Linked DNA regions of Homo sapiens. The protein of the gene in region 1 interacts with the protein of each later gene in a pairwise test. Each region holds a gene or a part of one and is shown in the gene's direction. Other genes may lie near its edges. The genes, in order: PBX4, IPO13, USP20 and EIF1AD.

What was found.
Region 2: the proteins of PBX4 (region 1) and IPO13 interact in binary tests that used the Homo sapiens proteins (3 or more experiments, as listed by UniProt).
Region 3: the proteins of PBX4 (region 1) and USP20 interact in binary tests that used the Homo sapiens proteins (3 or more experiments, as listed by UniProt).
Region 4: the proteins of PBX4 (region 1) and EIF1AD interact in binary tests that used the Homo sapiens proteins (3 or more experiments, as listed by UniProt).

The regions. Positions count from the first base shown.
Region 1 is NC_000019.10:19,561,211-19,566,713, reverse strand, and holds the end of PBX4 (pre-B-cell leukemia transcription factor 4), read left to right. Parts: intron 1-1,624; coding exon 1,625-1,781; intron 1,782-3,098; coding exon 3,099-3,205; intron 3,206-4,596; coding exon 4,597-4,689; 3' UTR 4,690-5,001; downstream 5,002-5,503.
Region 2 is NC_000001.11:43,949,950-43,956,977, forward strand, and holds part of IPO13 (importin-13), read left to right. Parts: coding exon 1-204; intron 205-3,513; exon of another isoform or gene 3,514-3,534; intron 3,535-6,370; coding exon 6,371-6,511; intron 6,512-6,610; coding exon 6,611-6,752; intron 6,753-6,860; coding exon 6,861-7,027; intron 7,028-7,028. UniProt on the Homo sapiens protein: Functions in nuclear protein import as nuclear transport receptor. Serves as receptor for nuclear localization signals (NLS) in cargo substrates.
Region 3 is NC_000009.12:129,873,449-129,880,476, forward strand, and holds part of USP20 (ubiquitin carboxyl-terminal hydrolase 20), read left to right. Parts: intron 1-33; coding exon 34-67; intron 68-250; coding exon 251-296; intron 297-1,127; coding exon 1,128-1,308; intron 1,309-1,380; coding exon 1,381-1,507; intron 1,508-1,861; coding exon 1,862-2,031; intron 2,032-2,111; coding exon 2,112-2,193; intron 2,194-2,681; coding exon 2,682-2,790; intron 2,791-4,889; coding exon 4,890-4,992; intron 4,993-6,124; coding exon 6,125-6,196; intron 6,197-6,664; coding exon 6,665-6,825; 3' UTR 6,826-6,841; exon of another isoform or gene 6,842-7,018; 3' UTR 7,019-7,028.
Region 4 is NC_000011.10:65,999,158-66,006,163, reverse strand, and holds the start of EIF1AD (probable RNA-binding protein EIF1AD), read left to right. Parts: upstream 1-4,006; 5' UTR 4,007-4,254; exon of another isoform or gene 4,255-4,359; intron 4,360-5,658; 5' UTR 5,659-5,774; coding exon 5,775-5,861; intron 5,862-6,002; coding exon 6,003-6,111; intron 6,112-6,488; coding exon 6,489-6,597; intron 6,598-6,766; coding exon 6,767-6,814; intron 6,815-7,006. Other genes in the region: BANF1 (barrier-to-autointegration factor), read right to left, coding at 2,392-2,538, 2,791-2,913.

The DNA.
Region 1 (5,503 bases):
AAAAAAAAAAAAAGTACAAAAATTAGCCAGGCTTGGTAGCACGTGCCTGTAGTCCCAGCTACTGGTGAGGCTGAGGCAAGAGAATCACTTGAATCTGGGAGGCAGAGGTTGCAGTGAGCTGAGATCGCACCGCTGCACTCCAGCCTGGGTGACAGAGTGAGAAAAAAATGTTTGAAGTAGCAAAGGTCATCCACAATCCTCTTCCATCCCTCAGCTGTTTCATTTCTGTGTGTTATTATACTATACGTTTATTTTACTTGCTTTGGGATACTGAAATGTGGCCCTGGATGGACGTCTCCATGCCTGTAGGAAGGCGCTGGCCCTGGGGTGCTCACCCATGTGAATCTGCCCAGGGGACATTTTTGTTGTCACGACTAGAGAAGGGAAGTGCTCCTGGCACCCAGTGGGTGCCAAGGATACCGCTCAGCACCCTGCAGTGTACAGGACAGCCCCCACAGAGCAGATGGAGCCCAAGCATCAGCAGTGCCACCAAAGGTGACAAGCCCCTCCCTGGGGGACTCCAGTGCCAGTTTGCAGTCAGAGCTGGGCTGATTCCACCTTGGCCATGGACTAGCTCCTTTTTCTCCTGCCTCTGCTTTCTTACAGCAGGGACGATAACAGCTGCCTCCCAGGTCCTCATGAGGATGAGGCAGAATGATATATGAGGCTGGGCCTGGAATCCCAGCATTTTGGGAGGCCAGGGCGGGAGGAACTCTCAAGCCCAGGGGTTTGAGACCAGCCTGGGCAACAGAGCGAGACCCTATCTCTAAAAAAAAAGAAAAAATATATTTTTTTTTCTGAGACAGGGTCTCACTCTGTTGCCCAGGCTAAATTGCAGTGCGATCTTGGCTCACTGCAACCTCTGCCTCCCAGGTTCAAGTGATTCTCCTGCCTCAGCCTCCCGAGTAGCTGGGATTACAGGCATGTGCCACTGTGTCCAGCTAATATTTGTATTATTAGTAGAGATGGGGTTTCTCCATGTTGTCCAGGCTGGTCTCGAACTCCTGACCTCAGATGATCCCCCCACCTCAGCCTCCCAAAGTGCTGAGATTACAGGCGTGAGCCACCACGCCCGGCCAAAAAACCTTTTTTTAATTAAAATTAAGAAAAATATATGAATATATGAGAAGTGCTTATCCTAGCACCTGGTACATTCCAACTACCCCTTCAGAGTTCACCTTGTTTTCATTTGATAAGTTTGGGATTCGATCGCAGTTACTGGGTCCCCAGGTCTCCCTGGCTCTCACTTTTCCTGAAGAGAACACGGAACGTAACCTGCCGCCTGCTGCATGGCAGCCAGAGGCGCTGTCCCTCCCGGCCCACCTCAGACAGTCTTGTTTTCCTTCCAGCCCCTTCCCAGGTTCAGGTTCCAGCAACATCCAGTTTTAGGCAGCAGAGTTCTAAGACACGCCAGCTCCAGGGTGTCCTCAACCCATGTGGACATCTCCCTGGGTCCGTGGTTCAGAGGGCGCCACCTTCTCAGTCCCAGACTCTTCATAGCCCCAGGGTGCAGTGTTGTCTTCTAAGGCAGTGGGAGCAACGGGCACCCCAGGGAACCCACAGACTGCGTCGTGTCTCAGAAGTCGCTGGGTCAGCTCCTCCAGTGACTCCTGTGTGTCCGCAGGTCTCTAACTGGTTTGGCAACAAAAGAATCCGGTATAAAAAGAACATGGGGAAGTTTCAAGAAGAGGCTACCATTTACACGGGTAAAACGGCTGTGGATACCACGGAAGTTGGGGTCCCAGGGAACCACGCCAGCTGCCTGTCAACACCTAGCTCCGGTGAGTGAGGCTGGCCCAGGGACAGTCATCTGTACCCATGTGGACGGCCACTGAGCTGCATCTGGGGAGGCCACAGTGGGACCACATCTCCCTTCCCCCAGTGGTCAACTCTGTGTAACTCTTTCTTCTGTTTCAACTGTGAGAGTTCTGTTCCTCTTGGCCATGATCCCAACCAACAGATACCTGTGCTTTGGGGACAGAATGGCGATACTAATAAGAAAAGACATGAAAGGTCTGGGTGCGGTGGCTCACACCTGTAATCCCAGCATTTTGGGAGGCCAAGATGAGTGGATCACCTGAGGTCAGGAGTTTGAGACCAGCCTGGCCAACATGGTGAAACCCTGTCTCTACTGAAAATACAAAAAAAATTAGCCCGGCATGGGCTGGGTGCAGTGCCTCACACCTGTAATCCCAGGCCGAGGCGGGCGGATCACGAGGTCAGGAGATAGAGACCATCCTGGCTAACACAGTGAAACCCCATCTCCACTAAAAATACAATTCACAATAGCAAAGACTTGGAACCAACCCAAATGTCCAACAATGATAGACTGGATTAAGAAAATGTGGCACATATACACCATGGAATACTATGCAGCCATAAAAAATGATGAGTTCATGTCCTTTGTAGGGACATGGATGAAACTGGAAATCATCATTCTCAGTAAACTATCGCAAGAACAAAAAACCAAACACCGCATATTCTCACTCATAGGTGGGAATTGAACAATGAGAACACATGGACACAGGAAGGGGAATATCACACTCTGGGGACTGTTGTGGGGTGGGGGGAGGGGGGAGGGATAGCATTGGGAGATATACCTAATGCTAGATGACGAGTTAGTGGGTGCAGCACACCAGCATGGCACATGTATACATACGTAACAAACCTGCACATTGTGCACATGTACCCTAAAACTTAAAGTATAATAATAATAAAAAAAAAGAAAGAAAAAACAAATTATCTGGGCGTGGTGGTGGGCGCCTGTAGTCCCAGCTACTTGGGAGGCTGAGGCAGGAGAATGGTGTGAACCTGGGAGGCAGAGCTTGCAGTGAGCCAAGATCGTGCCACTGCACTCAAGCCTGGGTGACAGAGCGAGACTGTCTTAAAAAGAAAAAAAAAAGACAAGCCATGAGGGGACATGAGTAGTGTGGTGGGGAGGGCCCGCTGGCCTGCCTGGGTGGGGGCTGAGGAGCAGAGGCCGGATGCTGAGGAGGGGCAGGAGCCACATTCGAGGCCTCCTGCCGGCTGAGGGGCTGGGTGGGTTCCACCTGAGGAGGCGCCACGACTCTGCCCACCCCGGCTCCCATCTCTTCCAGGCTCCTCTGGACCCTTCCCGCTGCCCAGCGCTGGGGACGCCTTCCTCACCCTGCGGACTCTGGCCTCTCTCCAGCCTCCTCCTGGGGGAGGCTGCCTGCAGTCCCAGGTGAGTCTCAGGCACTGTCCCACAGCGCCCAGGTGGGTGGTAGGTTCTCAGAAAGGGTCGTCTTGTCAGCCACCCCTCGGCCTTGGGGCAGCTTCCCCAGAGGTCCCAGCAGCCACACAGGCCATGCTGCGCGGCCACCTCTGGGGCACAGCTCTGCAGGGCCCCACTCTGTAATGACTGTGCCCTCCCCCACCTCCACTTGTCACCACGGCAGCCGCTGGGAACAGTCAGTGGGGATGAACCCCAAGATGAGGGCTTTGGCTGTGGAGGGGAAGGGCACCTCCTAGAGGACTGTGGGAGGACATGGTGTCCTTCCCTCGAGAGGGAGGGGCAGGCAGCCAGCAGAGGAGGCCGGAGGAGAGATGGGGCCTTCCCTCGGGCTCAGACCTCAGTGCCGCAGCTTGGCTGGGAAGGCAGCGAGTGGGGACCGTCTTGAAGACACTGAGGAGGCCCAGGTGTCATGTGCCCAGCACAGGCACGAGGCTGTGTGTGTGGTGTGTGCCAGGGCACTGCAGAGCCGGGTGCCCCTCCCAACTCACCACTCTCTCCCAGGGGTTCAGAGAACGGATGCCTCCTGTGCTGTCTGTGGGGTCCCACCTGGTCCTGGGAAGCACACGTCCCACACTGTCCTGCTGTGGCAGCTGCCCCCCATCACCATGCAGCCCCCAGCCAGGGACACACGTGAGGGGCCTCACCTTGCCCTTTGCACCCCTGGGACCTGACTACGCGCCAGCAGCTGTGTGTCCACCCCAGTTCAGAGCAGAGTGCCCCCAGGTGGTGCACCCGTCTGAGCTGCTCCCACACTCACGGGCAGAGCAGTCCCAGCCACTTCCTTAACCTGTACCGTGCCCACCATAGTGGGGGTGGGTCCTGTGGACAAACGTCTTAGCGCCGTTGGACGTGATGCCGTCTCTGCACTGCAGACAGAGCCCCCACCCCTTATGACAAGTGGTTGCCTCCCACCCTCCTTGCTGCCCAGCCAGGCCAGTGTTGGGCCAGGTTTCAGAGCCCCTTTTTCCCACCGAGTCTCACCATGACGCTCCGGGCGTCATCATGGGCTCCAGGCCTGACCTTGCCTCCCTGCCCCTCGCCGGGCAGGAGCCCTTGTTGTACCCGATGCCAGTCAGTCCTTTGCCTAAGCCCCAGGGAAGCCACTAGAGGCCAGTTTTCCTGCCGGGGAAGCTCGTCCATGTCCCATGTCAGGTGGCAAGGCCAGCTGTGACCCAGGACCGACCCCTCCATCCCTTCCCTCCTCCACTGAGCTGGAGGTCATCTGTGGATCTTTTCCAAGCCTTCCCAGGGACCCCTGGAGGCTCCGCCTGCAGCACGTGGGCTGGGTAGTCACCAGTCTCACGGCCACCCACTCTGATGCTCAGTCTCTGTCGTTTCAGGCCCAGGGTAGCTGGCAGGGGGCCACCCCCCAACCTGCAACTGCCTCACCTGCTGGAGACCCTGGCAGCATCAACTCCAGTACATCTAATTAAGTTTGGGGGATAAGCAGGAAAGAGCGCTGCGTGAGCTGCCATGTATCGCCAGCCGTTGCTTTGTTACTGAACGTGCCGCCGACGACCTCAGAAAACCCAGATGGGTGGTGGTGCCCATGAGCCCCTGCTCCTCAGCCAGGCCCGTGGCGCCGGCTCATGTGTCTGCTGCGACTCGAGATGGCCTGAAACGCCACTCATTCTCCCACTTCAGTTCGTTTTTTTGACAGTAATTTTATGGTAACGCTATGAATTGAATTGTCTGTTCTAGGACTGGGCACAGATTTTCCCATTAAAATTTTTGACTTATTTTAATTCCGATGTCTGTTTGCCAGATTTGTTTTGGGTGGTAGTTGACACCGGTCACAGCTGCAGTGTCATGTGTGCTGTGATTTTGCCACTCACCTGCGCCGCTCAGGCACAGACTCCCAACACTGTCTTCTGTGGGACCGTATCATTCTGTTCTGATTTTAAAATGTCCTGGCTGGGAGCAGTGGCTCATGCCTGTAATCCCAGCACATTGAGAGGTCGAGGTAGGAGGATTGCTTGAGCCTAGGAGTTTGAGACCCGTCTGGGCAACATAGTGAGACCTCGTCTCTACAAAAAAATTCTGCTTTCAGATTTTTTTTTTTTTTGGGGGACAGATTCTCGCTCTGTCACCCATGCTGGAGTGCAGTGGTGTGATCTCGGCTCACCACAACCTCTGCCTCCCAGGTTCAAGCGATTCTTCCGCCTTAGCCTCCCAAGTAGCTGGGATTACAGGTGCCTGCCGCTATGCCCAGCTAATTTTTTGTATTTTTGGTAGAGATGGGGTTTC
Region 2 (7,028 bases), on another chromosome or scaffold:
GCAGCTGCTACAGCAGCCCAGCTCACCCAGCTGTGTGCGTCAGAAGGTGCTCAAGTGTTTCTCCAGCTGGGTGCAGCTGGAGGTGCCGCTGCAGGACTGTGAGGCGCTCATTCAGGCTGCCTTTGCTGCTCTGCAGGACTCGGAGCTCTTCGACAGCAGTGTGGAGGCCATTGTGAATGCCATCTCACAGCCTGATGCCCAGAGGTGAGCTAGTACCCACTCACCCAGAAGACAACCTCTTTGGCCAGCCACACATCCATCCATCCATCTGTTCAATAAACATTAATTGAATGTGTACTGATACCTGGTCCTATGCTGGAGATACAGCAAGGAACCAAAGAAGACATGGTCCCTGTCCTCATGGTTCAGACAGGGAGGCAGACATTAAACAACTAATTATCAGTTATTCAATTAAAATATTTGACTCTCTTTTCCTTCTCTCAACTAGTCACCAAGTCCTGGCTGTTCCCCTCCTGACCATATTGCAAATCTATTTTTTTCCATTTCCATTGCTACCACCTTAGTCCAAGCTGTCATCATCTCTCTCCCCAGATTACTGTAGAGCTTGTCCTCACTCTTGTACCCTTCATTGTCCCAGCAGCCACAGTGATCTTTTGAAAATGGGGATCTAATCTTTCTGATCAGAAGCTTTCAGTGGCTTCTCAATGCTCTTAGGTTAAAGCTCAGAATCCTTAATGTGACTCATAATGGTGCTGCACAGTATGGCATCACTGGCCTCATCTCATGCTACTCTCCTTGCTCTCTACACGCTCACACAGTTTCTTTAATTCCTTGAATGTCCCATGTTCCTTTCAGCCTCTGGCTCATTACATATACTTGACACCTTGCCTCAGCTTAAACTTCATTTCCATAGGGAAGTCCTCCATGGATTCTTAAGGCTAAGTTTGATCTTCTCTCTTATATTACCTCAGAGCTCCCAGTATTTTTCCTTCTTAGCCCATAACATGATTTCTCTCACCTCTGTGAGGACAGGGACTCTGTCATTTTACTTTGTCGCATTGTGCTCGGCACATGGTAGCATTTGATATTTTGTGAATGGAGGAAAGTAGGAGTTGCCTGAGTTGGGAGGGGTGGGGCTGGAAGGGATTGGGGGAGGAAGGTGGATTGTTCTAGGCTTTAGGAACCACAGCATGTGCAAAGACTTGTGGGCAGCATCATGATATATTCAAGGGCCCTAAAGAAGTGAGTGTAGTGAAGTGTTTGGCAAATGTTCATTGAGCATGTCCTGTTTTGGGCCCTGTGCTGAGCTCTGGGAGCACAGAGACAAATGCTTTAGCTTCAGTCTCAGGAGCTCACAGTCTAGTGGACACATGAGTGGCAAGTACAATCAACATGATGAATCCTCTGATGGAGAACGCAGGGGCCTTGAAGAACCCAGAGGAGGCTTTCACTGAGTCTGAGGGCTGTGAAAGGATTCGCAGAGGAAGTGACAACCCAGCTGTGTAAGAGTTAGCCAGATGGAAGTGATGGATGGGGAGGACATTCCAGCCCAAGCAAGGGAAGGGTGAAAGCCCAGAGGGTCTGGTGATCTGTAAATCATTAGATGTGATTAGACAGCAAGATTTAAGGGCCAGAGGTATAGGAGACCTGGGCCCAGATCATGCAGGACCTTGGCCAAGTTTAAGATTTTGATCTTCATCCTGAAGACGATATAAAGATATTAAAGGATTATAAGCAGAGAAAATGGCCTACTGAGACTTTTGGTATGAGCTGGATTAGAAGAAGTGAGACTGGAGGTCCTGATGCTGACATTTCAGAGATGGGGCTTTGGGACCTTTGGCAGAATTGGAAGGGAAAACCATTGAAAGAGACTTCATGGAAGAGTGGCTGATGACTCAAGCCTTGGCATTAGTCACATCTAAGTTTGAATCCCAGATGGTTCACTTATTAGATCTGAAATCTTGGATCAGCCATTCCTAAGGCTCCGTTTCCTCATCAATAAAATGGGGATGATCATATCAACCCCACAGAGTTGAAAAGGTTTAAACAGGATAATGTGCACAAGTCCTGCCCCTGGTGTTCGGTAGAGAATATTTTGACTCCTTGAGTAATGGGAGTTCTTTTGTGGTCTCTGCTAGGGTTGGGATGGTCAGTAGCATGCATTTGTACCTTTGGGTTATTGATACGTTACATGTTTTAAAATGGGAACTGTGTGTATATGTTCTACCTTTATACTTTATGTGATCAGTTAATGGTAATTGTTTATTTATTTATTTTGAGACAGAGTCTCACTCTGTCACCCAGGCTGGTGTGCAGTGGCACAATCTCGGCTCACTGCAACCTCCGCCTCCCGGGTTCAAGCGATTCTCTTGCCTCAGCCTCCAGAATAGCTGGGATTACAGGCGTGCATCACCACGCCCAGCTAATTTTTGTATTTTTAGTAGAAACGGGGTTTTGCCATGTTGGTCAGGCTGGTCTTGAACTCCTAACCTCAGGTGATCCATCTGCCTCCGCCTCCCAAAGTGCTGGGATTACAGGTATGAGCCACCATGCCTGGCCAACTGTTCATTTTTTTAAAGAGAAACATAGTTACTATTAAATGGATTAAGGCTGTTTACTTTTAGTACTGGTCATAAGAAGTAGAACTGGAATCATGCAATAGAAAGTGGGCCTAGTTGTTCAGTGGCTAAATTTGAAAAGGAGTTGGTTTCCTATATATATATGTGTGTGTATACATACATATATTTATATGTATATGATACACACACACACATAGATAATGTGCTTAATCACTGCCTTTTGAAACTTTAAATAAAATATTGGGTTGATTTTAAAAAATAAAAGATTGTTTCGGTATGAGGATTAAATAAGAGAATGTGAAGCTTTTAGCATGGTTCCTATATACTCTGTAAACGGCAGTTGCCAGTATTTGGTTTCATTATTGTGTTGGGAGTTATTATGATACTTATCCCCTGGCTTCCCAGGCTTTCCAGCTTAAGGTGGATACCTAATCCCAGATCTCTTGGCAGCCTGAAGCTCAAGTGCTGGGTGGGCTCTGACAGTTGGTGACTAAGGGAAACAGATCAGGGCAAGTGTGTGGGTGATGTGAGGTGTCCTTGGATACACCCAAGTTTACCCGCCCAGCCAGTCTCAAGGGCTTTGGCAGGTAATTGATGCCCCTTCTCCTCTGAACGAATGAGCGAGCAAGGAGCCAGTGAGGTAACCCACAGCCTCCTTGGTGCCCATTGGCTGCAGCCCCTTGGTTGCTTAGCAACTCTCCCCATTTTCTCAGCTCTGCTCCTGAAGCAAAGCTCTAATTGCAGGTCTGGGCTGAGCTCCGTGTGAGCAGCAGCAGAGGAGTCCCAGCAGCCCTGCCTCGGCTACTTGAACTGACCGATTGGAGCCAGGCCTCTTGAACCCAGCCTCAGCTGTGGTCATAAAGACATCCTCCCTGTCTCCTTCCCCCAAACCTAGAAACCTCTGGGACCTCAGACTTGTTCTTCTGTCCACTCACAGGTCGCAGACACAGGTGCTCAGGTGGTAGGAAATTTATGCAAGAACTTCTTCCCATGGGTGAGCTGCATCCAGCCCAGAATCCGAGCCTGGCCCTTGCTCTCCCCAGTCTAATTTCCCAGCTTTGGCTTGTGAAAGTCACCTTCAGTGACTTTGACTCCTGGGTCATCCAGGCACGCCTTCCCCAGGTGTCCTGACATTGGCCCTCCCCTTGGCTGAGCTTGCACTCAAGTCACCCTTTTCCTGCCCCTCCACAGCTGCTGCTGCTTCCTGGCTCTCTCCTTTGAAATGTATTTTTTTTTCCTGAACTATGTTTTTAATGCTGGAAAAGCTTGTCCTTGGGAGTTGGGGATGGAGGGAAAGTGAATTAGGCAGGCTCTTGGGGGCTCCCATCAGTTAGGACTGGAGATATGGGCTGAGACGTACATAAATCCTTTGGGGAAATTCTGGTTGGGCCCTGAAAGAAAAGCAGACCTGTAGCAGTTTAAGGGGCAGTTTCAACCTGGATTCTGCTTCTAAGTTGTTGTATGACCTTGAGTGATATGATACTCTGAGCTCTTTGAGGCTGTATTATCCTTGATTTGTCCTATTTTGAGGCTCAGATGAGACAAATGAAGAACATTTGCCGAGTACCCTGCCATCTGCATGAACTTTGGCAGGTGGAGGAAGGAGTCTTAGAATACAGTGGGGAGCTATGGGAGTAGAGCGCTACCTCCTGCACCCATCTCAGCTGCTGAGGAGCTTGTGGGCCATAGCCTTGGCCCTGCCCCTTCTCTTTGTGCCAGAGTCTGGCCTGAAAATGCCCATTGTCTGGTGGTGCAGCCCGTGTCAGGGTCAGGAGACTGAAGCTATCCCGGCTGTCTCCAGGCAGCACCCCCTGGGGCTGTCTCTGGGCTGGGGATATCCTGGCATGGGTGACTTTTCCTACCAGAATGGGGATGTGGAGAAGGAGGCCGATGTCCCTAGGCTGGTTGCCTCTTTTTGTCCTTCTCATCCTCCCACCAAGGATATGAGGCTACTGCCTAGCAACCTGCTTGGGGCAAGTCCAGATAGAACTCCCTCTGGGATCCTCAGTCCCCAACTCCCTAACATAGATTGCTATGGTGACACTATGATTGACAACAGAGGGGTCCCAAGCATCTGATCCCCGCTATTAGAGTGTGGCTTCCTCTGCTTAGTCTCATCTCCACAGACCAAGGTGCTGGAGAGGGATCCAGTGGGCTGAGCCAGGCTTCTCTCAGTCCCCTTTGTATACTGGGCTGTCTGTCCTTCTCCTTTAGAGATCATTGTGTTTCAGGGCTGTGATCTGGACCCTCTTATTTTTTTCTCATTCAACACTTTCTCCTTGGGCAATTCTCATCTATTCCCATAACTTCAATTACCAGCTGTTAGCTGATGACTCTCAAATCTATGGCTTTTGCTCTAACCTCTATGCTGGGCTTCAGGCTTTTATATCCAACTCTTTCTAGATGCTTCTGCCTGCATAACCTATCAGGTGTCTCTGAATCAACTTGTCTAAGACTGAGCTTATCACCTTCCACCTCCCATTAAAGGTGTTACTGTTCCCCGCTACTCACCCCACAGGTCTCAGTAAATAGCTCCACCGTCTACTTAGTTGTTTAGCCAGTGACCTGAGAGGTGTCTTTATTCTTCTCCTTCCTCATATCCAGTCAGTCATCAAGTCCTGTCTGTTTTGCCTCTTAGCTCTCTCTGAGTTCATTGTCTACTTCTCTTCCTCCCTGCTGCCACCACACTCCTCAAGAGTTGGGATTTGGTGGTAGAGGGTGGAGCGGATGGCAGGGATTGATGCTCTCATGAGCTGTTGCTGCCTTCCAAAGTCTTTTTTTTTTTTTTAAATCAGGGCTTATGAGCCTGTGTTTACTCTTCTGTATCCCACTCTTGTTCAATCACCCCTGACAGACTGTATTAGTTTCCTAGGGCTACCATAACATAGTACCACAAACTAGGTGGCTTTAAAGCCAAACAGAAATTAACTGTCTCACAATTGTGAAGGATAGAAGTCTGAAATCAAGGTGTTGGCAAGGCTGTGCTCCCTCTGAAACCTGTAGGAGACTCCGTCCTTGCCTCTTCCTAGCTCTGTGGTTTGCTGGCGGTCTTCAGTGTTCCCTGGCTTCCAGCTGGATCACTCCACTCTCTACTTTCATCCTCACGTGGCATTCTCCCTGTATGTCTCTGTCTTCACATAGATATCTTCTTATAAGGACACCAGTCATATTGGAGTTCAGGTCCATCCTACTCCAGTATAACCTCATCTGCAATTATCTTATTTCCAAATAAGATCACATTTTGAGGTACTGGGGATTAAGATTTATCAAAAAATGTATCTTTTTGTGGGGACTTAATTTGACCCATGACAGTCTGCCCTCTGGTGCCCCAAACTTCATGTTATCCCCACATGCAAAATATATTCACTTCATCTCAATCTCCCCAAAAGTTGTAACCTAGCTGGATGTGGTGGCTCCACCTGTAATCCCAGCTACTCTGGAGGCTGAGCAGGAGGCTGAGTCTCTTGAGCTCAGGAGTTCGAGACCAGCCTGGGTAACACAGCAAAACCCCATCTCAAAAAAAAAAAAAAAAAAAAAATCTTAACCCATTCCGGAATCAGCTCTCAGTCCAACTGGAGAACACAATTCAACCCATAATGCTGACCTTCTCATACGTCCTTCTCAGAGTTCTTCTGGGGGTCCCTGATCTAAGGTTCTTCCCAACATTGGGAACATCAAATCTGCCATGTAGACCCTGACCCTTTTTTTGCTTAGGATTTGATAAGGGAAGGGGAGCTTTGATGGAAGACAAGGAGATTATGCCTTTCTCTTAAAGCCAGTGTGGGGTTGAGCAGAGAGCTCTGATGGATTTTCTCACCTCATGCCTCTAGGTACGTGAACACACTCCTGAAACTCATCCCGCTGGTGCTGGGTCTGCAGGAACAACTGCGGCAGGCAGTGCAGAATGGGGACATGGAGACCTCCCATGGCATCTGTCGCATCGCTGTGGCCCTGGGCGAGAACCACTCCCGGTAAAGGGTGGAGCAGCTTGGGGTGGGATAGTAGGGCCCTCTAAGAAATGGGGTTCTGGAAGTCCCTGGAAAGGTAGAATGACCTGACTCTCTCCCCAGGGCCTTGCTGGACCAAGTAGAGCACTGGCAGAGTTTCCTGGCACTCGTCAACATGATTATGTTCTGCACAGGCATCCCTGGCCACTATCCTGTCAATGAGACCACCAGCTCCCTAACCCTCACCTTCTGGTACACACTGCAGGTGTGTCTGTGTGACCTCCAGTAGGACTGGGCTGTGGTGGAAGAAGGTGGATCATGGGCTTCTATGACTGCTGGTGAGGTGGCTAATTCTCTTCCCTGGCTCTCTCAGGATGATATTCTATCCTTTGAGGCAGAGAAGCAGGCTGTATACCAGCAGGTGTACCGGCCAGTCTACTTCCAGCTGGTGGATGTGCTTCTGCACAAGGCCCAGTTCCCTTCTGATGAGGAATATGGATTCTGGTCCTCAGACGAGAAGGAGCAGTTCCGAATTTACAGG
Region 3 (7,028 bases), on another chromosome or scaffold:
GCTAACCTCTGACCCTTTGTTTTACTGCCCTAGGTGACAACATGTACAGCTGTGAGCGGTGTAAGAAGTAAGTGAGCCTTCCCCCGCCTTCTCCCTAACTGCCGTTTCTGTGCCCTACATATTCCCCTTGGGTTCCTGCAGAGAGCCCCCTATAATCCTGCCTTCCCAGAAGGGAGCCGGGTGGAGGGCTGCTTCCCTGGCCCCTGGCCCTGATGCCGGACACTGATGCTGGCTCGTGCTTCCTCCCCAGGCTGCGGAACGGAGTGAAGTACTGCAAAGTCCTGCGGTTGCCCGAGGTGAGCCAGTGGCCTCGGCAGCCTCCTCCTCAGCTATCTCGGGATGCACACCAGCACACACCAGGCAGGGGCTGAGCCTGCTCCACTGCTCGGGCACTTCTGTGCTGCAGGGGCCGTGGAGACTCCATAGCTTTGGCTGAGAAACCTCTGGGAAGGGTTGGCAGGGGGCACATTTTTCCAACTGTGACTTGGTGCCCTCTCTCGGTAGCCTCAGCACATGTTGTCTAACATGTTGTATGAGGGCCCAATGGGAGGCAGGTGTGTGGGACACTGGGTTACCACCCCCAGTGAGACAGCTATGGCTCCTGCCAGCTGCAGAGTGGCGGGAGGAGAGCTGGTCCAGCTGGGGCTGTTGCCAGGGGTCTTTCTGAGGAGTAACGTCTGAGTGGGGCCTGGAGGGTGTAGGCTGGTGTCAGCGTCGTGGATGGAAGGCACAGAAGGAACAGACAAAACCCCAGTGCAGGAGCAGGCTTGTCCGCACCAAGGAAGGCACGTGTGGCTGGAGCAAAGAGGAGAGGGCCCTGGCAGAGGGGGCCCAGGTTGGGGCTGTGGTGGCTCGGGGAGGCTTTGTGGCTTCTCAAAGGTAGTGCCGACAGAACTGGTAAACTTGATGGCTCATTGCAGCTCTTGGGGTCCAGTTCTCAGCAGTGGAGCTGGGAGTGATCTGTGTGACTTAGAGCGAGCCCAGTCTGGCCCCCACGTGGAACTCTTGGATTTGTTCCAATGGAGTCAGCTTGCATGATCCCATCAGCTGTCCTGGGCCCGTGGGCAAGGCTGCGAGGGCCCGCATCATTTCTTCCTAGATGACCGGCGCTCTCTCTGTCCCCGCAGATCCTGTGCATTCACCTAAAGCGCTTTCGGCACGAGGTGATGTACTCATTCAAGATCAACAGCCACGTCTCCTTCCCCCTCGAGGGGCTCGACCTGCGCCCCTTCCTTGCCAAGGAGTGCACATCCCAGATCACCACCTACGACCTCCTCTCGGTCATCTGCCACCACGGCACGGCAGGCAGTGAGTCATGTCCCCTCCCCTGCCGTCCCCATCCGCTAGGATCCCTGTGACCCGTCTGCTCTGCCGCCGCAGGTGGGCACTACATCGCCTACTGCCAGAACGTGATCAATGGGCAGTGGTACGAGTTTGATGACCAGTACGTCACAGAAGTCCACGAGACGGTGGTGCAGAACGCCGAGGGCTACGTACTCTTCTACAGGTGGGCGCTGGGCCAGGCCTGGTGGAGGAACCTCACCATCCCCGTCCCCTGGGACCCATGGGCCTTCTGGGTGTGTGTAGGGGACAGCGCCTGGATTAAGCCAGGGAAGTAAGGACTTGGATTGTTAAGAAACAGCCCTCTGGCTGCTGTGGGGAACCCAGGAAGGCAGCTTGGAGCCTTCTCCAGGGCCCTGGCTGGCGGCACAGGGGGCTGCTCACATGTCCAGGACCCGTGAAGGACCCAGGAGGTGGTGGACAGGGCCGGTAGCCCGAGGTGCACTGGGATGGGGGCTCTGCATGTGTCTGAAGGTGGCAGCCGTCAGGCACAGCTTCTCGCCCCCTCCTCACCCCACAGGAAGAGCAGCGAGGAGGCCATGCGGGAGCGACAGCAGGTGGTGTCCCTGGCCGCCATGCGGGAGCCCAGCCTGCTGCGGTTCTACGTGTCCCGCGAGTGGCTCAACAAGTTCAACACCTTCGCGGAGCCAGGCCCCATCACCAACCAGACCTTCCTCTGCTCCCACGGAGGTGAGGCGCCCCCTGTGGTGGGAGAGCAGGGTGGGCAGCTGGGCCGAGCCACAGCTTCGCTCCCTGTACCTTCTTCCCAGGCATCCCGCCCCACAAATACCACTACATCGACGACCTGGTGGTCATCCTGCCCCAGAACGTCTGGGAGCACCTGTACAACAGGTGAGAGCCTGGGAGGCCAACTTGTCTCCGTCCTGTCCAGGGCCCAGCTGGGCAGGAAAAGAGGGGAGGGCAGGGAAGGAATGCCACCAGGACCCCACACCACACTCTGGCCTCCACGTGGGCAGCACAGAGCCGCCTTCACTTGTCTCATGGAGAATGACACATGTCGTTTGTGGGAATCCGCTTGGATCCTTCCAGCGGCAAGGGACAGGAAACTGGCTGAAGCACAGCTGAGTGTGTTGGCCATCTGCTGAAGCACAGCTGAGTGTGTTGGCCATCTGCTCTTCAGCCTTGAAGCAGGACCTCCCTTGGGCTGTGGGCGCGCTGCTCCGTTGCAGGCTCTGTGGTGCTCACACAGAGGTGCATGCAGGCCTGCGACAGCGCTGAGGGGGCACTGATGGCTTGAGGGGGAAGTGGAAGGCAGTGATCACTCTCCCCTCCCTGGTACCCCGCTCAGGCCGTGTCTCTCTCTCCCACCCTGGGCACAGATTCGGGGGTGGCCCCGCCGTGAACCACCTGTACGTGTGCTCCATCTGCCAGGTGGAGATCGAGGCACTGGCCAAGCGCAGGAGGATCGAGATCGACACCTTCATCAAGGTGCGTGCGGCGAGGCGGCGCGGGGGCGGCTCTGCCAGCCTCTGCCTGGGGCAGCTGGGGACTTGGGGACAGAAGAATCCTGTGCAGTCCCTGAGCAAGTTTGAAAGCAGTCTTTTGAGGCTGGGCATGGTGGCTCACACCTGTAATCCCAGCACTTTGGGAGGCTGAGACGAACAGATCACTTGAGGTCAGGAGTTTGAAACCAGCCTGGCCAACATGGCAAAACCCCGTCTCTACTAAAAATACAAAAATTAGCTGGGCTTGGTGGCAGGTGCCTGTAATCCCAGCTACTTGGGAGGCTGAGGCAGGATAATCGCTTGAACCTGGGAGGCGGAGGTTTCAGTGAGCTGAGATTGTGCCACTGCGCTCCAGCCTGGGCAACCGAGTAAGACTCCATCTCAAAAAAAAAAAAAAAAGAAAAAGAAAAGAAAGGAGTCTTCTGCGGGGAACTAGATGGCCAGGTGTCTAGGAGGGCTTTTCCTGGTGGGAGGGTTGGCTTGAGTAAGTGAAGCCTCATCGCCCGGGTGCTGTTGAGCTTAAAGAACCAGTAGATGGATCCCATTCTCAGCCTTGGCTGTGTTATTTTGGGCTGAATTATTCTTTATTGTGGGGCCGTCCTGTGCATTGTAGGATGTTTAGCAGCATTCTTGGCCTCTACCCACTAGTGCTAGTGACAACCAAAATGACCTCCAGAGATTGCCCAGGGTCCCCTGGGGTGCAGAGTACCCTCCCTGCCCTGGGTGAGAACCACTGGGCTCTACAGACTGCCCAAGATAAAGCAGGAAGTGAAAACCAAGGTGCAAACCAGGACTCAAGTGTGACTGTGTTTAGAAGAGGGACTTCTGTGAGGGAGCTGAGTGCAGGCGAGGCTCCTGGCGCACTCCCTCCCTGCCACGCTACTTCTAACAGGGTTAGGACGTGTTCCACTCACAGGGAGGGCCTGGTGAGAGACACTGAGGGACGCCCGTGCTTTGTGGCCATTAGGAAATGATTCTGCTGCCTGGGCATGGTGGCTCACGCCTGTGATCCCAGCACTTTGGGAGGCCGAGGCAGGTGGATCACTTGAGCCCAGGAGTTCAAGACCAACTTGGCCAACATGGCGAAACCCCATCTCTACAAACAATACAAAAATTAGCCAGGCATGGTGATGTGTACCTGTAGTCCCCGCTACCTGGAGGGCTGAGTGAGTTGGGAGGATCACCTAAGCCTGGGAGGTTGAGGCTGCAGTGAGCCGTGATCATGCCACTGCACCGCAGCCTGGGCAATAGAGTGAGACCCTGTCTCAGAACACAAACGAAAAAGAGACTGTCAGGGCTGGGCCTAGTGGTATGCACCTGTGGTCCAACCTACTCAGGAGGCTGAGGTGGGAGGATCACTTGAGCCCAGGAGGTCAAGGCTGCAGTGAGCCATGATTGCGCCGCTGCACTCCCGCCTGGGCACAGAGTGAGACCACCCCCCATCTCGAAAAAGAAAATGCTCCTGTCAGAAGGAGAGCTGCCTCTCTGAGCAGATAGGCACATTCTATTCAACCGGAGAAAATTAGCATCTCCCAGGCCGGGCGCAGTGGTTCATGCCTGTTATCCCAGCACTTTTGAGAGGTCGAGGTGGGCGGATCACCTGAGGTCAGGAGTTCAAGACCAGCCTGGCCAACATGGCGAAACCCCGTCTCTACTAAAAACACAAAAAGTAGCCAGGTGGTGGCACACACCTGTAATCCCAGCTACTCAAGAGGCTGAGGTGGGAGAATCGCTTGAACCTGGGAGGCAGAGGTTGCAGTAAGCCGAGATCGCGCCACTGCACTCCAGCCTGGGTGACAGAGTGAGATTCCTTCTCAAAAAGTAGAATCTCCCTTGTGGTCTCAGTTGGGTCAAACAGTTATTGAAGAGACCCACAAAATGTTACCACCGTCCTCTCTGAGTGATGGGTGTGTTCATTTTGTTTGAGCTTGTCTGGGGGTTTGATTTTTCACCTTGAGTATCTGGTGTTTTTGTAAGACTCTTGGGTGAGGGACTGGGGCGGGGGCATTTGGGAAATCCTTGCTGAAGGTAAATAGAGACTGACCTGCCCTCTGTCTCCTCCCGTCCCTGCCCGCCTGCCAGTTGAACAAGGCCTTCCAGGCCGAGGAGTCGCCGGGCGTCATCTACTGCATCAGCATGCAGTGGTTCCGGGAGTGGGAGGCGTTCGTCAAGGGGAAGGACAACGGTGAGCTGAGGGGGGACCTGGCACTTACCTGCCCTGGGGGCCTCCTGGGAGATGGGATGCTGGCAGGGGAGGGCTGGCACACAGGGGCTCCTGCAGGCCCCATGCCTGCCCCCAGGTGCCACCCATCCAGGGTGAACAGAGAGCATGGGGCTTTGCCAGTCCCCAGTGGGGATCACTGTCCCCACCCAGAGGCAGGAAGCTGCTCCTGCTCTGCGCCCCCTGCCCTTCTCCACTCCCTGCCATGCCCAGCAAGCTGCTCTGCCCTCCTGCAAGGCCCTTTCCTCAGGGGAGTGTGTCGCCCGAAATGACAGATTTGTCATCTGACTCCTTGGATTTACAGAGGTGGAGACAGGCCCCATCACAAGCTCCCAGGGTCCCCCAAGTCCCCAGTGAAGAACAGCAGAACCAAGCCATGGAAGCCCACAGGCTCTAAACTATTAAACCTGCATTAAAAATTTCGGCTGGGGCGCCCTCGGGGCATAATCTAACCTGTGGCTCCGGGGCCCGGCAGGGTGGGTAGAGCCCACGGTTCTGCTCACGGGACCCTTGGTGTGGAGCATGAGCACCCACCTGTGCTTGGGAAGGGAGGCCTCATTGCCATCCCGCTAGTCGGGGAAGGTGCCAGGGCCACCGTGAGGCCTCTCTGGTGGTGGCTGAGGCCTTCAGCATGGCTGTGGTTGAGAATGTAGCTCCGGAGCCCTCGCCCTGGCCTGGACGCTGGCCTTGCCTTCTACCAGCTATGACCTGAGTGGTTACTTCACCTTCCCAGGCCTCGGCTCTGTCTCTGTAAACCTCTGTCTTGTCCTGTGGTTGCCGAGGCTAAATGAGATAGCTGGGCAGAGGGGAAGGGGCGTGGTGAGCGGCAGCTGCCAGCAGAGATAAGGGCATGGGCCATCCACCGCAGCTCCTGCGGCCAGCACAGAGTCTGAGACCATCTCGTGTGTCCTGGAAATTCCCTCTGCTGGGTCCTCAGACTGCCACAGAGGAGCATTGGGTGGCTCAGGCGCCTCATCCATTAGAGACTTCACGCTGACCCCCAGGCCTGGGGCGGCCCCACTTGGGATGGCTCTGCTGCTGTGGAGGGTGGAGGGCATGGCAGGGGCTGAACCCGAGCCCGCTGTGTCTGTTGCAGAGCCCCCCGGGCCCATTGACAACAGCAGGATTGCACAGGTCAAAGGAAGCGGCCATGTCCAGCTGAAGCAGGGTGAGTTCCCCCTGGGGTCAGCCAGGCTCCTCTCTGCCCTTCCTGGCTGCCAGGCTGCTGCCCAGTCCCGTCCTTCCAGGAGCCCCCTTACCACCTGTCTTAGAGTCAGGCTGAGACGTCCACCTGAGTCCAGACCCAGGCGGCTGAGAGATGGCCCAAGGGGCTTGGTCTCTGCTTGTGTCCTCCAGGTCCCACCCCTCTGCCTGCTGCTGGCCTTGCCCACCCTGCTGTTTATGTCAGCCCCACCCCCAGGAACAAGGGACACAGCCAGAGATGTGTTATCCGGGGCCCTTAGCGGGATGGACATTCCTCTGGGAAATCCTGATTTCCATCTGACAGCTTTGCATAGAAGCCCTGGTTGCCGTCTTCCCGCTTCGGGGCCTGGCCCTGCGGAGCCCCCACTGCCCAGGCCGGTGGCTTCCTTGAGGAGGCAAAGGTGAGCCTAGGGGTGCCTCTCGTGCCCTGCAGGAGCTGACTACGGGCAGATTTCGGAGGAGACCTGGACCTACCTGAACAGCCTGTATGGAGGTGGCCCCGAGATTGCCATCCGCCAGAGTGTGGCGCAGCCGCTGGGCCCAGAGAACCTGCACGGGGAGCAGAAGATCGAAGCCGAGACGCGGGCCGTGTGATCTGCTGGGCTAGTCTGTAAGTCGCCCCGGCTGGTCCCTCCATGGCACTCTGGGTCCTCTCCTCACTCTCCAGAGACCCTCACATGTCCTTTTGAACATCCAAAGAGCAGGTCCCTGAAAGCACCTTCCTGGAGGATGTGGGAGGGCCCTGGACATGGCCCGGCCCCACTGCTGAGTGCCCGTGTCCCCACAGCCCCATGTGC
Region 4 (7,006 bases), on another chromosome or scaffold:
GTTATCTTTCTATTGTTGAGATGTAGCGAATACACTGAAAAGGGCGCAGAACATACACTTTTGGTCAATGCCTGTACCACCACCCCATAGGTCAGAAACACAGGTCAGGGTAGGCCAAGCCTACCCTTAAGCCCTTCCACACCCTCCCCCAAAGATAATCCCTGTAGACTTTTTCCTTTACTATTTACCATAATCATTTCCTTTGTTTTCCTTCTAGTTTTACCATCTATGTAGGAATTCCTAAGAATTTGTTTGTCTTCATTTGCTATTGAGATTCGTGTTGTACACAACTATCATTTGTTCATTTTTACCTCCGTCCAGTGTCCGGTGGCATGAGTGCCTATTTATCTACTCTAGTATTGACAGCCGCTAGCGTTGCTCCCAACAATGCAGCTGCAAACTCATCTAGGTCCTGCTGCAGGTGTTCGGGACTTTCTTCAAGGCACAGTCCTGAGAGTGGAACTGCTTGGTCACAGGGCGTGTCAGTTTTACTAAATAACACCCAACTGTCTTCCCAAATTGTTTAGACCAATTTATACTCCCACCAGCTAGGTATCAGTTCCTGTTGCTTCATTATCTCATCAATACTTGGTATTGTCCAACTTAAAAGTGTTTGCCAGTCAGGTGGGTGTTAATGGCATGTGATGTCTTATTACTAGCAATATGGAGCACCTTTCCTGTGCTTATTTACTGGGAGGGAACCCTCTTCTGTGGCCGTCTTAGATCTTTTACCCATTTTTCTGTTGTTTTTTTTTTTTTTTGAGACAAAGTTTCATTCTGGTCACCCTGGCTGGAGTGCAATGGCCGTGATCTCGGCTCACTGCAACCTCTGCCTCCCAAGTTCGATTCTCCTGCCTTAGTCTCCTGAGTAGCTGGGATTATAGGCGTGCACCACCACACCCGGCTAATTTTTGTATTTTTGGTAGAGATGGGGTCTCACCATGTTGGCCAGGCTGGTCTTGAACTCCTGACCTCAGGTGATCCACCCACCTCGGCCTCTGAAAGTGCTGGGATTACAAACGTGAGCCATTGCGCCCAGCCAGTCCGCTTTTTTCTTGATTGCAATTCTGTATGTGCTATGGAAATAGTCCTTTGTTGTTTATACTGCTGCAAATATCCTTTCCCTACAACCACCTCATTTTCCAAGTGGAGAAACTGAGGCTCAGAGAGGCTAAGCCACATGACCAAGGAACACATGGCCGGGTCCCTGGGTTTCCAAGCTAGTTTGAGTTCCAGTCTGGCTACTTCCCAGGAGCAAGTCCATGGGCAAATTAGCCTCTCTGAGCCTCAAATTTCCTCACCTGTAAAGGAGAAAATATTTATTACTGTGAAAGAAAAAAATGTTTGCAAAGATTTTAGCTTCAAGCCTGGTTCATACTAAGTGTTCAAGAAATAATAGGGCTGGCCGGGTATGGTGGCTCACACCTATAGTCACAGCGCTTTGGGAGGCTTAAGGATCGCTTAAGGCCAGCATGGGCAACAGAGCAGGGCCCTGTCCCTATTAAGTTAAAAAGTAAACAAAAAGAACAGGACTAAAATGTACTGAGGTGTACTCCCCTCACATCCTTCCAGCTGTGATGCCTGTGCTCCTTCTCCTCCCTAAGAGATCATGGAAGATGGCAAGCACCCTGCCCACCCTTACAGAGGCCGGGAGAGCAGATGATGACTGGCAGGTGAACTCTCACCCACATCCGGCCCACCCTGTCTGGTACCTCTGACTCCCACTGACTTTTCCACCAGGTGCTGCCTAGCCCAGCTGTTGACTTAACTGACATCTGGAGCACAGTCCATCTGGCTCCCAGGAAAAGATCCACCCACACCCTCTCCCACATCACTCGGGGATTGAGACAAAAGTCACCTGCCTGAGGCCTACATGGCTAGGGTGGCTGCCCTCTGGGAGTGGAAGGGAAGCTGCCAGTTTCGGTCTCTACTGATAAGGAGTGAGGGAAACATGGTCAGTCCCTGAAGGAGAGGCAACTCCCAGCCCACTTGCTTTTCAGTGCACAAAGCCCAGTCATGAAAGCCACTGACTTTATTGATCTAAAAAACTTTACAAGGACAGTGACTGTTCTGCCAAAAAAGGAGCCAAATGGTATCAAACGGATTGAAAGTGAGGGTGGGGGTGAGGGATGGGGCCGGGAATCCATTCAGGAAAGCTGGTAACTGTCACCAGGGAACTGGCAAGGGAAAAAGGACGGGGGAGGCATGCAAGAGCGAGAATCCAAAAAAAAGTTGAAATGGTTAGGGGAGAAAACTCCCAAAAGACCCCGGAGTACGTCGGAGGTGAGTACGACAATAGCAATCTTTTCCTTCGTAGAGGACAGGGGAGGAGTCCCTACTCGGCTGCAAACTCTGGATGAGGGCTGGGGATTGAGAGCTTCCCAGAGAGCATCACAAGAAGGCGTCGCACCACTCTCGAAGGCATCCGAAGCAGTCCCGGGACTGCTTGGCGTTGGCGCCACAAGTGTCTTTCAGCCATTCCCGGAAGAGGTCTTCATCTTTCTTTAGCACCAGAAACTGGCCAAGGACAACATAGGCCTGCAAAACAGGGAAAAGGAAGGAGCGTGCTGCTCAGTGCTCAGTGAGAGATAAGAGCAAGACAGCCATTCCTGTGCCATTCAGAGCACACAAGCCCAGGAAGCAGCGCGGGTTTTGCCCCCCTCTCCTCTCCACCAGGTGCCCAGGCTCTGGCAGCCTCTTCAGATTATACCTTACTGTCCATCCCCCAGCAGATGGAATCACTTCCCTTCCACCCCCCGCTTGCACTAGGTACACGCAGCCACCCCACACCTTGTCAAAACCCCTTTCCTCCAGCTTCTTGCCCAGGACTTCACCAATCCCAGCCAGGCTCCCCACTGGCTTCTCCCCCATGGGCTCTGCCACGAAGTCTCGGTGCTTTTGGGAGGTTGTCATCTTGATCAGGCTTAATCTAGGAATCCCAAAAAAAAGGCAGATTAGGGCTGAAGACCTGGAACTTCTAAGGGCCCACGAGCAATCTCATAGTAAGAGGAAGCCAAGCCAGGGGTTACAGTGGCTTGCTCGATCCCCCTCATCCTGAAAGGAGAAAACAGTTCCAGGGAGACTCTTCCCTACTATTTTTAAGAGGAGTTTCTTCCTGCAGGACCTGGATTTTGATCTTGCCCCAGAGGAAAAACGATCCTGCCTAACAGGTGGCGCAAGCGGGGCAGTGGAAAGATGCCCAGAGTCCGTAGCCAGGGCTGCGCGGAAGCTATCACTCCCTCTGTGACCTTGGCTGAACCAAGACGACACTGCCTGCCTGGAACGGCCACTTGGCGTGGAAAGCTAACCAAAGGGTCTCTCTACCTACAGGGCGAAGCGCACACCTAGCGCTGCGCACACCCGCTCCCCGCCCGCGGGGTTCACGCCGCGCCCCAGCTCCGCCCCCACCGCGCGCCGCTGCGGCCCGCCCCTTCCCGCGGCCCGGCTCCCACGCGCTGCACCCCGCCCCCTCCCCGCAGCGCGGCCAAGCTCTCCCCCAGGGCCCGCCACAGCGCCTGCGACCCCTCTCCTCCCCTTCTCCCCGCAACCCCTCTGGCCTCCAATCAGGGCCCTGCTCCGCGGCTGGCGCTCACCCGCAACTTCAGTTCCCGTAACGGTTCCTCCCGCCACCCGGCCGCTCCTGCGGATACCTCAAGCCACTAGAACTTTCTTCCACTTCCGCTTCCGGGTCGCTTCAAGAGCCGCCTTTAAAAAAGAAACATTCCACGTTGGGCACTTCTAGCCAGTTAGAGCTATAGAGTTGAGGCGCCCCGGACCTCGACGGCGTCCTTAGTAGGCGCTCCTTTCCGGTCCTTCGCGGGAAGCCCTGCCTTCTAAGGTCTCGCTTCTCGCGCAGTTCTGAGGGAGATAGGCCTCCAGGGAGAGGACTTCCTTTCTCTGCTGCCCGGACCCGGAACTCAAGGACTTAGGCTTGACGGACCTGGCGTGGGGAAGAGTTAGAAGACGGACAAGGGAGGGGACGGGAGGCCTCCGAGACAGCGCCGGAAGTACGGTTTTCGGAGGGATCAGACTCAGACTCACGTCGCACTCCTCGCAGTTGGACTGGTGGGAACTGGGAACACTGGAGACCTGATTTCTAACTGACGCTACCGTCGCGGCCGCCGGCAAGTTCCTTTACTGTGTTTTCTTGGTTCAGCCTTGAAGTGAGTCGTGGACGATCCTCTCTCAGCGTCCAGCCTAGACGGCGGTGTTGCTCCGGCAGCGTTCCTGGGAGCCGAGGGCCAGAGACTAAGTGTGGGTGTTTCTCTGAGGGTCTTTTCTCCGGGATAGACAGGGAGGAGGAAGGAGGACAGCAACTAGAGACGACAGTGTTTCTTTCGGAAACCATCAGTCTTAAGGGTACTGGCCTTCGTCTTCTAAGTACGCAAGTCAGAAATATGCAAATGTCGCAGACAAGCCTGCTCACCTCAACCTTTAATTAACTAGTTCCTGGCTTGAACCATCACGGTGGCCACCTAGTTTGTCTCCGGCTGTAGTGTGTTGCCAGACTGAACTTCTCTGTTGTGTGACTATGCTAGACTTGGGGTGTACAAGCGTGTTGAGAAAGATACGGTTTATTTCAAACTCCTTCCAGAGAGGTTGCCAGGATGACTTCTCTGGAGCATGCGTATAGTTTTATATTACACTAGTACTTAAGATTATAGGAGTTACTTTTTTTTTTTTTTTTTTTTTGAGACGGAGTCTTGCTCTGTCGCCCAGGCTGGAGTGCAGTGGCGCGATCTCGGCTCACTGCAAGCTCCGCCTCCCGGGTTCACGCCATTCTCCTGCCTCAGCCTCCCGGGTAGCTGGGACTACAGGCGCTCGTCATCACGCCCGGCTAATTTTTTGTATTTTTGTAGAGAGAGGGTTTCACCGTATTAGCCAGGATGGTCTCGATCTCCTGACATCGTGATCCGCCCACCTCGGCCTCCCAAAGTGCTGGGATTACAGGCGTGAGCCACCGCGCCCGGCCGGAGTTACTTTTACATGACATGCATTGTATTGTCCCATTCTGTTGTAGCAGGACGAGTCGCAGACAGAACTCCTCAGACACCAGATTAAAGAAGGAAGAGGTTTTTTTATTCGGCCGGGAGCGTCGGCAGACTCGTGTCTTAAGAGCCGAGCTCCCCGAAAAAGAAATTCCTAGCCCTTTTAAGGGCTTACAACTCTAAGGGGTCTACGTGAAAAAGTCATAATAGATCAAGTAAGCGTGAGAAACGTGACTGGGGGCTACATACATCAGCTAACAGAACAAAAAGTTTTACAGTGCTTTCTCATACAATGTCTAGAATTTACAGATAACACCAGTAGTTTTGGTCAGGGGTTAATAATATTATTATTATTTTAGCCACCAGGGCCAGGTGGTGGTGCCAAGGTCGTCTAGCTATTTATCTTACTTCTGTTTCTTTCCAACTTTTTGCTTTCTCCCTTTTCTCCTGTCTTATAAACTAGGGAAAAGGGGAGGTTGGAGAGAAACTAAGAAGGCCAACAGGAGAAGTGGTGGCCTCATACCATACTGTAACAGTGCTGAGTTAGCTGTTATTTTTCTGGGACCTAGAGAAGTTGAATAGTTAGGAAATAAACCAAGGTAGGATTTGAATCCAGGCAGTTAGACTTCAGAACCCATGTTCTTAACCAAGACACCGTGTCACCCCTCAGTAAAAGGCCCCTCCCCATCTTCAGAACAGTCCTGGGTTCTGAGCCTGCCATCCAAGGAACTCAGGAGGAGGAGTTGACAGTCTCTTCGTTCCTAACCAGTGTGGGACGACTTCAGCATGTCTCAGGCCACCAAGAGGAAGCATGTGGTGAAGGAGGTGCTAGGGGAGCACATAGTGCCCTCCGACCAGCAGCAGATTGTCAGGGTGAGTGGCGTGGGGCACAAGCTGTTCTGCTCCCCACCCCTGCAGCCCTGGAGGGCCCCTGGGGTGGGGGTAGGGTGCAGCGTGTCTGAGAGGGTGTTTGATCTGACTGATGAGACTGATTCTTGGTCTCTCCTGAACCAGGTACTCAGGACCCCAGGGAACAATCTGCATGAGGTGGAGACAGCCCAAGGGCAGCGCTTCCTGGTGAGCATGCCCTCCAAATACCGCAAGAACATCTGGATCAAGAGAGGTGAGAGGATTACTCCTGTAATCCTGGCACTTTGAGAGGCTGAGATGGGAGGATCGCTTGAGACCAGCCTGGGCAGCATAATGAGACCTTGTCTCTACAAAAAGAAAAAAATTAGTTGGGCACGTGCCTGTGATCCCAGCTACTCAGGAGGCTGAGGCCTGAGAATCACTTGAGCCTGGGAGGTGGAGGCTGCAGTCAGCTATGATCATGCTATTGCTTGCCAGCCTGGGCAACAGAGCAAGACCCTGTCTCAAAAAAAAGAAAAAAGAGAGAGGTGAGAGAGGCAGCCCTCTCTAGGAGATAGAACCCCTTCCTATGGCTTTGGCTTTCCTTATTGCAAGCAGGCCTGACTTTGCCTTTTCTCTTCTTATCTACAGGGGACTTTCTCATTGTTGACCCCATTGAAGAGGGAGAAAAGGTGAAGGCTGAAATCTCGTTTGTGCTCTGCAAGGACCACGTGCGCTCTCTGCAGAAGGAGGGGTTTTGGTAGGTGGTCCCCTTGATCATTGGCTGTCTGGCTTCTGGAGGCATTGCCTTCCTAGCTTGGGAATTAGGGGAGGGAAGGTCATGGCATCCCAGGCAGACACAGCTGGAAGCAGCTCTTTTGTGAGAAATTTATTTGTCCTTTCTGACTTTGGCTCATCTCTTGGCATAGGCCTGAGGCCTTCTCTGAAGTGGCTGAGAAACACAACAACAGGAACAGGTGAGGAACAAGCCTTGGGGTGGGGTACATGGAAAATAAGGGGTTCATGCTTTGGTGCCTTGAGGGAAAAATAGAGCCTTCTTTCCTCCTTACATAGGGTATCTGTTGAGAGCTCCTAAGCATGTGGTATAACATGGTTATGAATGGGGTTTGAAGGTCAGATGCTCTGGGTTAAAATCTTGGCTTTGCCAC